Regions from separate parts of the Homo sapiens genome. Here region 2 is linked to region 1. The links come from fine-mapping of genetic effects on gene expression. A gene starts in region 1. The other region holds a variant in brackets. All regions are shown on one strand. Distances are between the middles of the regions. Region 1 holds the start of ALS2 (alsin Rho guanine nucleotide exchange factor ALS2). Region 2 overlaps ALS2 (alsin Rho guanine nucleotide exchange factor ALS2).

Evidence for each region. PIP is the estimated chance that this variant, and not a neighbour inherited with it, causes the effect.
Region 2: its variant is the best candidate, but not a certain one, in a credible set for the expression of ALS2 in spleen (GTEx, PIP 0.63).

The regions. Positions count from the first base shown.
Region 1 is chr2:201,778,335-201,783,717 of GRCh38, forward strand. ALS2 (alsin Rho guanine nucleotide exchange factor ALS2) reads right to left here and starts at 2,599. Exons shown (of 34, transcript NM_020919.4): 1 at 2,543-2,599. RefSeq lists a silencer at 2,269-2,438 and enhancers at 2,569-2,638, 2,649-2,878, 2,889-2,958.
Region 2 is chr2:201,732,466-201,737,848 of GRCh38, forward strand. It overlaps ALS2 (alsin Rho guanine nucleotide exchange factor ALS2), which reads right to left. Exons shown (of 34, transcript NM_020919.4): 13 at 811-973. Among named protein-coding and RNA genes, the nearest start is that of MPP4, 37 kb to the left of the region's middle. The variant T/C (reference allele first, on the strand shown) is at 3,386.

The DNA.
Region 1 (5,383 bases):
TCTTTTTCTCATAGGTATTGAGAAAACTGTAAATTTTCTTCAAATTTGAAAGAAATATACAATAGCTCCAAAAACTACCAATTTAAATATTTTTTCCTCTACCCACCTGGATCAATCAGTTCAGCTACATGCAGGCAAACATCAAGACATAAGCTAAAGAAAGCACCATCACATATACAGATGAATAAGAGACAGGGAAAGGAAAATTAAATGCAATATGAAAAAGAAACAAGCCAGAGATTGTTGCTATTTTATTGATGACTACCTAACATTTTCTTAAGGACTGACACCCTACAAAACCGAGTACTTTCTTATTACAGACAACAAAATTGTTTGGTCATCAATGAAGGGTTAAGAGAAAAAAATCTGTTAAAACTCTCTACCAGGAAAATTCATATCCTGAATACACTTGAAATACGTGGTAGATTTAATTCCACAAAGTTATAAAAAGAGCTAAATGATTTAAAAGTCACAAATCCTCACAGCATGCCTCTGAGTGAGAAAGGTACCTCATAGTACCCAAAGCGGGCCTTCCTTTATACAAGCTTAAAAATCACCACTCTGCCTTTCTTCCTAGTTTTTCAACTCATACTTTACCTAGTCTCACATTAATAAATAATTGTAGATTTTTACAAGTCAGTCACATTTTTGAGATTATCATTAGAATGGACCCAGCAGCTACTGCTTTAAACCCAGTTTTCATGAAAAGGTAGGAGATTCCACCTAATTACAAAAACACTAACATCAAGACTCATTGAAGTTCTTAGCATACCCTTTGCTTCTTTAACAGTCAAAGTGCCCAAAGTAAGTGTTTCAAATGACAGCCCAAATTCTGAAAAACTGAAATTTGGAGAGAAGGGATTCCTGTTTATATTGAGTACATTTAAAAAGTAAATGGCCTGCATAATGCCACTCAAGTTTTGTTTTTTTCCCAAAATTATCGGTTTGGTATTTCATTTTTCTGGATCATTACAGTTTCAAATTTTAACACTGTTAAACAACTTTGACGTTTTCTTGCTATAATTATGAATTTTAAATCTGCTAATACTGGTCATAGTTTAGAAACTAATAAATTCAAACCATGTATAGATTCTGTCAGTATCTTTTTCACATTAAAATGTCCTTATGGAACACCAAAATTACTACAGAACAACTTGAAATCATATTTTATAGCTACTTCCTTAAAATATTCAGTTCCCTTCCCCATCACTTAAGAAAAGAGTCAGTTTGGATCATGATGTAGTGGGAGGAATTAATTATAAAAACAGCTAATATGTATTGAATATTTACCATAAAACAGGCACTGTAATAAATACGATACATGAACCATTACACGTAAAGGTACTGTTATCAGGAAAACATTTTTATCCCCAATTTAGAGACAAGAGAACTGAGGCAGAGAGATTAAATAACTTGCCCAAAATCAAAGATGTAAATGGATGTGACTCTGGGTATGTTCAGATACAAAGCCTAGAATCTTAACCACTATGCTTATGTTATCAAGGTTAAAACACCGTAGTTTACTGCAAAAAATTTTTCACTGCTTTAAATTATTCATTAACTCAAAGGTCAACCGGTCACTCCAAATCATATGATAAATGGGGGGGAAAATGTGGGACCAATAGGTTTGCTGAAGTTTTGTACCTGCTCAGAATAAACATATCACACAATTTTATTCCATATAGCCAAATATAAGGGTAACTGAGTAAAGATCTTCACTTGGGTACAGCAGTCAGTTCCTTCTCCATCCTAAACCAGAAAGAAAGCACTGTTCTTGGATATGCCACTTCAACAAGAGTGTTTTTTCTCTTCCACCATCAAAGCCTTAAGCAATAGAACGATTCTACCAGTCTACTGTTGCCTGTCTCCAAAGCAGCCCTATTATCCGAGGACGAACACCAGCGTCAAGGACCTGTGTTATTTTTCTGGCTTCGCTTCTCAAAATAACTTATCTTCTCCTCTTGATGAATTACTTGATAGGCTCAAAGACTTGCCTAAACTACTAATTCTTATTATCAAAGCTATTTTCTTTCTCCGCAACCGCCTTTTCAAGTAGCCCTTGGTCCACTCTTCAACGCGATTTGCACCCTGTGGCAAGGCCGCCAGGGACACTCAGCAGGGTTCCAGGCCACGGACCCCAGTTTATCAGCTCAGCGCCTAGTGTGGGCATTCAAGAAATTCTCGTGAATGAATAGCTGGAAGGCAGCGTGGGTGGAGGCGGGAAGAGGGGGCTTGAAGGAATTTCACGCAGCTGAGACCACTGCAGCGGCGCCCAGTCTGGGGAGGGAGAGACCGGGGCAAGTGGGAGAACCTGGGGCCAAGGCAGGGGCCGCCTCGGGCGCTGCTGGACCGGCAGGAGCAGTCGATCGCACCCAGAGCTGGGAAAATGCGGGCGCCGTCTCCGCAGGCCCCCCGCAGGGCGCTCTCCGGCCTCGACCACAGCCTCCGCCTAGCTCCCTGTCCCCGGCCTTCCGCATACAAGGGGTCCCAGCCGATAAGCCCTCCTTAGCCAATAGCCAACCCGGGACCCACACTCGCTCACCTGAAGCTCCACCGGCAGCACCGCGCTCCGCATCCGGCGCGAGCTTGGCAACCCAGTGGGTCCGCGGGATCAGCTGATTCATGGAGGGCGGGGCCTCCGGACAGGGCGGGGCTGCAGGGCGACTAGCGAAGGTAAACGAGGGCGCGGGCGGCTCTTGGAATCCGAGCTCCTGGGAATTGTTCTTGGGAGACTGTCGACGGCGTCTGTTGGGGGTCAAAATTGCTGAGAATGCGTTAGGCACTGCAGGCTACGTACTTGGGAGCACAGTCTCTCCCTTAGTTTAGGGCGGAGCTATCAGTCCTGAGATGCGCTTTGATGATGACGTAGAATAGAGTCGTCCAAGCCTAGCTACCCGAGCGCTCCCATGGTAACAGGCGGTGGTGAAAGTGGTTGGGAGCAGCAGTCGTTTGTTACCACCTCAAACTGCAAGGGCCGGAAGTATAAAAGTAAAAAGGCTGAAATATTTTCAAATTGCCTTTATGGACAGTACCCTAACAGTGGTCGCTTCTCCCCCCTACTCCCGCGAATGACGTCATCGCCTCGCGGCCCCGTTTCGCCATTGTATCCTCAATGTGTAAACTTACTGGTTAGTTGCAACCCCAAAAGATGGGGTGGGATAGGAGAAAATGAAGTGGCCTCTCCAGTGATTCCCGTAGTACTCCCCAATATACAATCAGTAAAATCAGCTTTCTTGTCCCGCGCACAGTTTCATAACACTGTTTTTCGCAGCCACAGTCCCACCCCACCCAGCCTGCACTCTCAAGTCCTCCCATGATTTTATGATTTTCCAGAGCTGCCACTCATGTCGCACAGTGGGTGCAAACCTTCTGCTGCTAGGCATTGTGCCATCGCTGGACCTGCAAACATGCAAATATTTAGACCATCAACGACAGATGTGTAGTCGGGTTCTGAAACTCCTATATCCTATTCACCAACACCCTCAACTCAATTTCCTCCCTGATCCTTCGCCCACCTGCAAAACTGTTAGTCTGCAACAGTTCAACCAACCTTGCTCACTCCTGCATCGGTGCAGAAAATCACACAACCCTGAGAATTGGCACCACTGCGAACGAAAAGTGTCCAACTTCAGTCGGGACTTCCACGTGCGACTACGCAATATTGCTGAGCCTAAGACAGTCACATTTACACATTGCTACTCAGATTATCTCCTATTCCCCTCCCCTGCTGTTCCCAGCCCTCACGCTCTTCTAACCTCTTACTGAACTCTACTCACTCACCCGCTTTGGTAAAAATAAAAATAAAAAATTTTGTCTCTTACATCTCTGAGGAAAGTGAGACCACTAGAGGTGAATTTCCTTAAATCCCAAATCCCATCAGCCACTACCACAAAACCTACCTGCAACCAGTTTTGATTTGTTTTGTTTTGTTTAGAGGGAGTCTCGATCTGTCGCCCAGGCTGGAGTGCAGTGGCGCGATCTCGGCTCACTGCAACCTCCGCCTCCCAGGTTCAAGCGATTCTCCTGCCTCAGCCTCCCAAATAGCTGGGATTACAGGTGCCCGCCACTACGCCCGGCTAATTTTTGTGTTTGTAGTAGAGATGGGATTTCACCATGTTGGCCAGCCTGGTCTCGAACTCCTGACCTCAATTGATCCACGTGCCTCAGCCTCCCAAGGTGCTAGGATTACAGGCGCGAGCCACCGAGCCCCGGCTCCTTTTCACCGAGTCCTTTTCTTCTCCCTCTTTCTTCTTAGAAGATCCTGAACTCAGGATCCCTAATCTCCCCAAAGGAAAGACTTTGTTCTGTTGATGAAAAAAGACAAACTTTATAAAATATTTGAAGAGGTTAAATATACTCTGATCGAAACATGAGTAACCATGGCCTGGGACACAGCCTCAAGAAGTCCTGAGAACATGTGCCCAGGGTGGTTGGGTTATAGCTTGGTTTTATACATTTTAGAGAGACAGAAGTTATAGGCAAAGACATAGATCAATACATGGGGGGCCGGTGGTGCTCACAGATTATAGGTGGATTCAGAGACTTTATGATGGGTTGAAAAAGCTAAGCTTTTCCTAAAGAGTTGAAGTTAGCAGAAAGAAATATTTGAGTTAAAATGAAGGGGGTTATAGAAGCCAAGGTTCTTGTTACGTAGATGAAGCTTCCAGGTAGCATATGTTATAGGACCTTAAAATGTGTCAGACTCTTGGTTAAATCTCTCCTGGATCAAGAAAAGACCTGAAAAAGGAAAGTGATTCTGTATAAAATGCAAATTCCCCCCACAAGAGACAGCTTTGCAGGGTCATTTCAAAATATGTCAAAGAAATATATTTTGGGGTAAAATATTTTTATTTTCTTCAGGGCCAACTATCTGTCTTGTAATGCTATACCATAGTCAGGTTAGAGTTGGATAATCTTATTGCTACAAGAGTCTATTTTGTCAGTCTTATGATCTCTATTTTCATTTCATGAAAATGGTTTAGACCACTTTAATGCTGGTCTAAACTCCAAAGGGAGAGGATATAATGAGGTATGTCCAACCTGCCTTCGCATCATGGCCTTAACTAGTTTTTAAGGTTTTCTTTAGGATCCCCTTGGCCAAGGAGGGTGGAGGGAGATCTATTCAGTTGGTTGGGGGGGCTAAGAATTTCATTTTTTTATTTACATTTCCATTACTTATCCCTTCTCCTTCATGTATTTTCAACCTCTGCCTGTCTTCTTATTCCTATATACTTACAGTGTATAAACCTGCTATCTATCTCATCTTTAATTTTTTTACTTTCTGCCTTTTTTCCTTTCCAACCTCATTTCCTACCTCTACTTTCTGACTTCCCAGTCTTCCTCACCATTTCCTTAAGTCTACTGAAATCAATAGTCATCTTCT
Region 2 (5,383 bases), 46 kb before region 1:
GCTGAGGCATGAGAATCACTTGAACCTGGGAGGTGGAGGTTGCAGTGAGCCAAGATTGCGCCACTGCACTCCAGCCCCAGTGACAGAACGAGACTCTGTCTCAAAAACAAACAAACAACAACAACAATAAAAAAAACCTATAAGGGACTTTGGAGTCATTATAATTTTTCTAGAGCCTTTCAGGGTAGAAACAAAATGAAATCACATATTTCGATGGGATTTGAAAGGTGAATGTCTCAGGACCAGTTTTAACATACATCTATATCCTAGTGTGGTGCTAACTTCCTAGGATTCCACCTAACTAGTTTTATGTAAGGGTGGACTAGTTAACATTTGAGAAAATCCTGTAACTGATTCCTCTCAGCATTTGCTAAGGTAACCTAAACACCTGGCATAAAGTCTAGCATGAATCCAGGCTGGGTAACACCCCTGCCTTACAGGTGTATGCCATTATACAGAAAGCCAGGGCTTTAAAGAGCTCTGTTTAACTCATAGTCAGCATGCATCCAATAAATTTTGACAACTACTGAATGAGTAGCATCTGATAGAGTCTCAACTTTAGACAGTTTCATAAAATGAATACAGTTTATTCATCTTGATAAGGCCCTAAAGGGAAACTGAATCCACAGAAAACTCAATTTATCTACAGTCATACTTTCCTCTGTCATTTCCCTGAAGAAAATTAAATTTAATTAGACACAGGTAAATATTAAATTACTGGAGTTCCAGATCTTGTGGTGGCATAATCCATACAAACAACTATGATCCTTGGCTTTCCAAATGTCCAAAGAGGTATACATGGGAGCTTACCACTTCAAAACAAGTAGCAAGCTTTAGCAAAACTTTTGCGTAATTATGAAGTCGTCTGATTGGCAAGAAAAACAAAGTATTCAGTATTTCCATCAACTGAGTGTTTTCGTCATTCACTTCTGACAAATCTTGCAACAGCTCTTGGTTTTTATTTAGGAAATCACTAGAGGCAGAGGAAAAAAAAATTTAGTTAATCATTTTGGAATTGGTAATATGTACATTAAATAAAAAATTTCACTAGAAAGTACCTCTTTCAGAATGCACATTTTTTAGGTGCTGTGAAAGTAGAAATACAATGAAATAAGCCAGATATAATTAAAAGAATTTCCCTATCTATAAGACAGGATTTTTAGTATGAAAAGTAGCAAATGGTAGCAATACAAACGGTTAATCACAGACTTGTGCCTATATTCTAGGAAATGAATCATGCATCCAACAATTTAAGATGAATAATCAGAGACCAGCTGACACCATTACCTGTTAATTTCAAAGCCAAAAGTCACAGCAATAAATGGCAAGACTAATTGTTCTAGGCAGCTGTGCTAAATAGAAACACTGGAAGAAAAAGCAAAGCTCCTTGCTCCAACAGAATTAGTGTGGATATTAAAACACTTCTAATTTCTTCTTTTTTCCTTCAATTATTGATCACCTAACAAGAGTTTATTATAGGAAAGTAATAAAAAGCTGCAAGAACTAGTATTACAGTTAACAAGAAACAATAAAGATGATTATATGTGAAGATTTCAATGCTGAGATCTTCAAAAGCATTTCAAACTGAAGCCAAAAATTAGCTAATATTCAGTTTTTAATAAATTCATTGTTAAAATTTTATTCCAAATTTTAATGCTGATCAATAACCCATTCAGGCTTAGCTCACCAAACCAAAATACTTAATGGTAAAGCAGTAAGAGTTGGTGAGCTGGGTGCAGTGGTTCACACCTGCAATCCCAGCACTTTGGGCTGCCAAGGTGGGTGGATAGCTTGAGCCCGGAAGTTTGAGACCAGCCTGAGCAACATAATGAAACCCTGTCTCTGCAAAAAATACAAAAATTAGCCAGGCATGGAAGCGCACACCTGTAGTCCCAGCTGCTCAGGTGGCTGAGGCAGGAGAATCATTTGAGCACAGGAAGTTGAGGCTGTAGTGAGCCGTGGTTGTGCCACTGCACACCAGCCCGGGTGACCAGCCTGTCTCAAAAAAAAAAAAAGATCTTAGATAAAGTGCCCAGATTTTATTTATATTTGGCTGGTGCTAATGTTCCTACTTCTTTCTCCACGTTCTACTGCAGAGATCAGCTGAGGACTTATTTAATTTTACACAAGTGTTCTGCTTTGACCTGCTCCTGAGAGACGGAGGTAAGATATAGTGAACACAAACTCCCTTGGACCATATTTCTCCTCAATACCCAGTACCCAGTCTACAGTAGACCAGAAATGTTCCAACTCTTGTGAACTCCATTACTTTCCAGGACTCACTCATGTCCTTACCTATAATCTTCCCCGAAAGAGGCCAAGCTACACTCCTAAGAAATCTGAACCAGAAACCATCTCTGATCAGCTTATCTTTTCTTGGGAGTTTTTAATCTAATAGTGGCAATATCACTCTTTCCTTATATGGCAAGGTCTGTACTTTTTACTCAGATTTTTAAAATAAAAAAATATTAAAGGTAGAAACAACCTAAGTGTCCATCAGCAGATGAACTGATTGATAAAATGTGGTAATGTGTACATACAAGAGAATATTATTCAGCCATAAAATGGAATGAAATTTTGACGTATGCTACAACATGAATGAACCTTGAAAATACTATACTTAAAGAAATAAGCCAGACACAGAACGACAAATAAATACGTGATTCGACTCATATAAGGTACCTAGAACAGGCAAACTCAAACAGAGAGGAAGTAGAATAGAGGTTACCAGAGCCAGGCAGGCAGGGGGAGACAGTATGGGGGGAGTTATTATTTATCATGCACTGAGTTTTTCTCAGAGATAATGAAAAAATAGTGATGGTTATACAACATTGCGAATGTATTTGATGCCCCCTAAATTGTACACTTATTAGTGTACAATTAAGATTAAAATGATAAATATGACATTACATATATTTTATCACATTAGGAAAAAAACTTGCATAATAATCAAACCACCAGGCAAGCCTGATGTGAGCAGCTGAGTGATCAATTAGATGAATGATAAGTGCTTGTGCATCATCATCCAAGATCCACTAACAGCCATGTGGGCAGCCTAGCTGTGCTTTAGACATTCTCAAACTCTCCTCTGAAAATGAAATCTTTACGGTAATTTTAAATATTGACTTTGTAAACAGAAGTTGGAAAAAGATGTCATTGCTGCCTTTAACTATGTAAAACCCAGGCTCTGGGCATGGTGCTGTGCAAAAGGCAAGAGGCTTTCAACTTATGTCATCTCATTTTTCTGCTCTAACAAGGTCAATTCTTCAGTACTGTGAATCTAACTCGGAAATACCAGAGGAAGGTCAACAACAGCAGAATAAGGAACCAGGGTCAGTAACTGCTGTAGCCCTTCAGGAAGCCCAGAAGCTTTCCATTTAAACTG[T/C]CACAAGTCTCCATCTATTTTTTGCATCTTCCTGTAATTAAACTTGCTTTTCTTCAAGCATTACTATTTGCAAAAATAACTATTGAATTTTCTTTCTGCTCCATTTAATTATTGGTTTGGCTACAGCCCCATTTTCTCCTATTTTCTTTGGCTATGATTCAGCATTTCACCAACATTATAGGTTAACTAAGCTATTTTATTCATTATAATAAAGATATTTAAAATAATAAATATAAAATCAGTAATTACAAATGTAAACTTGTCAAAACCAGAAGTTCTCAAATGTAAACAACAACAACAACAAACAATAAGTCCATCCATGTGCTGCTTATAAGAAATATATCAAAACAATGCAGACAGGCTGAAAGTAAAAGAATGGAAAATTGTGGTGTATTAAGATCAAGAATTTTAAAGTTACTACATAAGGTTAAAGACATATTCTTGAAACTGTCATTTTAAAAAAATAAAGGCCAAACCCCTATATTTTGGAAATCAACAAGCATGTGAGTCCAATAATTCATAATGGATTAGAAAAATACTTTCGAAAATATTTAGAACTGAATGACTATAAAAACAAAACGTACTAAGACTTGTAAGATTCAGCTAAAGCAACAATTAGAGGGAAATTTATAGCCTTAAATGGCTACATTAGAAAAATTTTAAATTTGAAAAATTAATGAACCAAGTGCTAAACTAGAAGTTGTTAAGAAGTTAACAGGTGAACAAAAAGAAAGTAGAAGGAAATAAAAAGCAGAAATTAATGAAATTTTTTAAAAGCGAAAGAAATGATTCCCTAATTTTTGAAAAAATTAATTTAAAAAGGGGTAAACTGCCGACAAGACTGATCAAGATAAAAAAGATAAAAGGCCCAAATGAATAATCGTAAGAATGAGAAACAGGGGGTACAACTACAGTTATTCTGGTGTAATCATTTTAAGACTATGGTAGGAACATTATGCCAATAAGCTTTAAAACAAGGGTGCAATGAACAATTTTCCAGAGAAATATAAATAACAAAAGCCATAAGAAGAAATAAAGACCTGAACATACCTATTCATTAAATCAGTAAAAACTCCCTACAGCAAATGCCCCCATGAAACCTAGATTATTTTTACAGATGAATTCTACTAAATCTTCAAAGTACAAATAATTCCTACTTCATATAAACTATGAACTTCCAGGAAACAGAAAAGGAGAAAAAGCTCCTCCATATCTGTGAGTTCCAAATCTGCAGATTCAACAACCTCAGACCAAAAATATTTCATAAAAAAATTATGTTTCTACCACTTTTTTGTCACTAATCCCTAAACGATACCATATTACAACTATTTATATAGCATTTATATTTTATTAGATGTTATAAGTAATCTAGAGATGATTTAACATATATGAAAGGATGTGCACAGGTTATAGGCAAATACTAAGCCATTTTATATCAGGGACTTGAACATCCTTGAATTTTGGTTTCCTTTGGGAGGTCCTGGAGTCAATCCCTCATGGGTACCAAGAGACAACTGTATAAGTAAATTTAATTCAGCAATGTATTAAAACCTTAATACATTAAGATTACTGAATTTTGGAATTTGGAAACTCAGATATTTAACATTATAAAAATTCCTCTACAACTTTTAGAAATAGGGCCTTTTTAACCCTATAAATTATATCTACCAAAAACCTAAAGTAATCATTTTTAATGGTGAAATATTAAAAGTATTCTCATTAAAACTAGAAATGAGATGAGAATGTTAGCATTCCTTCTATTAGGATAAAAAATCAAAAGCAAACATGGGGCTGGGCATGGTGGCTCACGCCTGTAATCCCGGCACTTTTGGAGGCCGAGGTGGGTGAATCACTTGAGGTCAGGGGTTTGAGACCAGCTTGGTCAACATGGTGAAACCCCATCTCTACTAAAAGTACAAAAATTAGTTCGGGGTGGTGGTGCACACCTGTAGCCCCAGCTACTTGGGAGGCTGAGGCAGGAGAATTGCTTGAACCCAG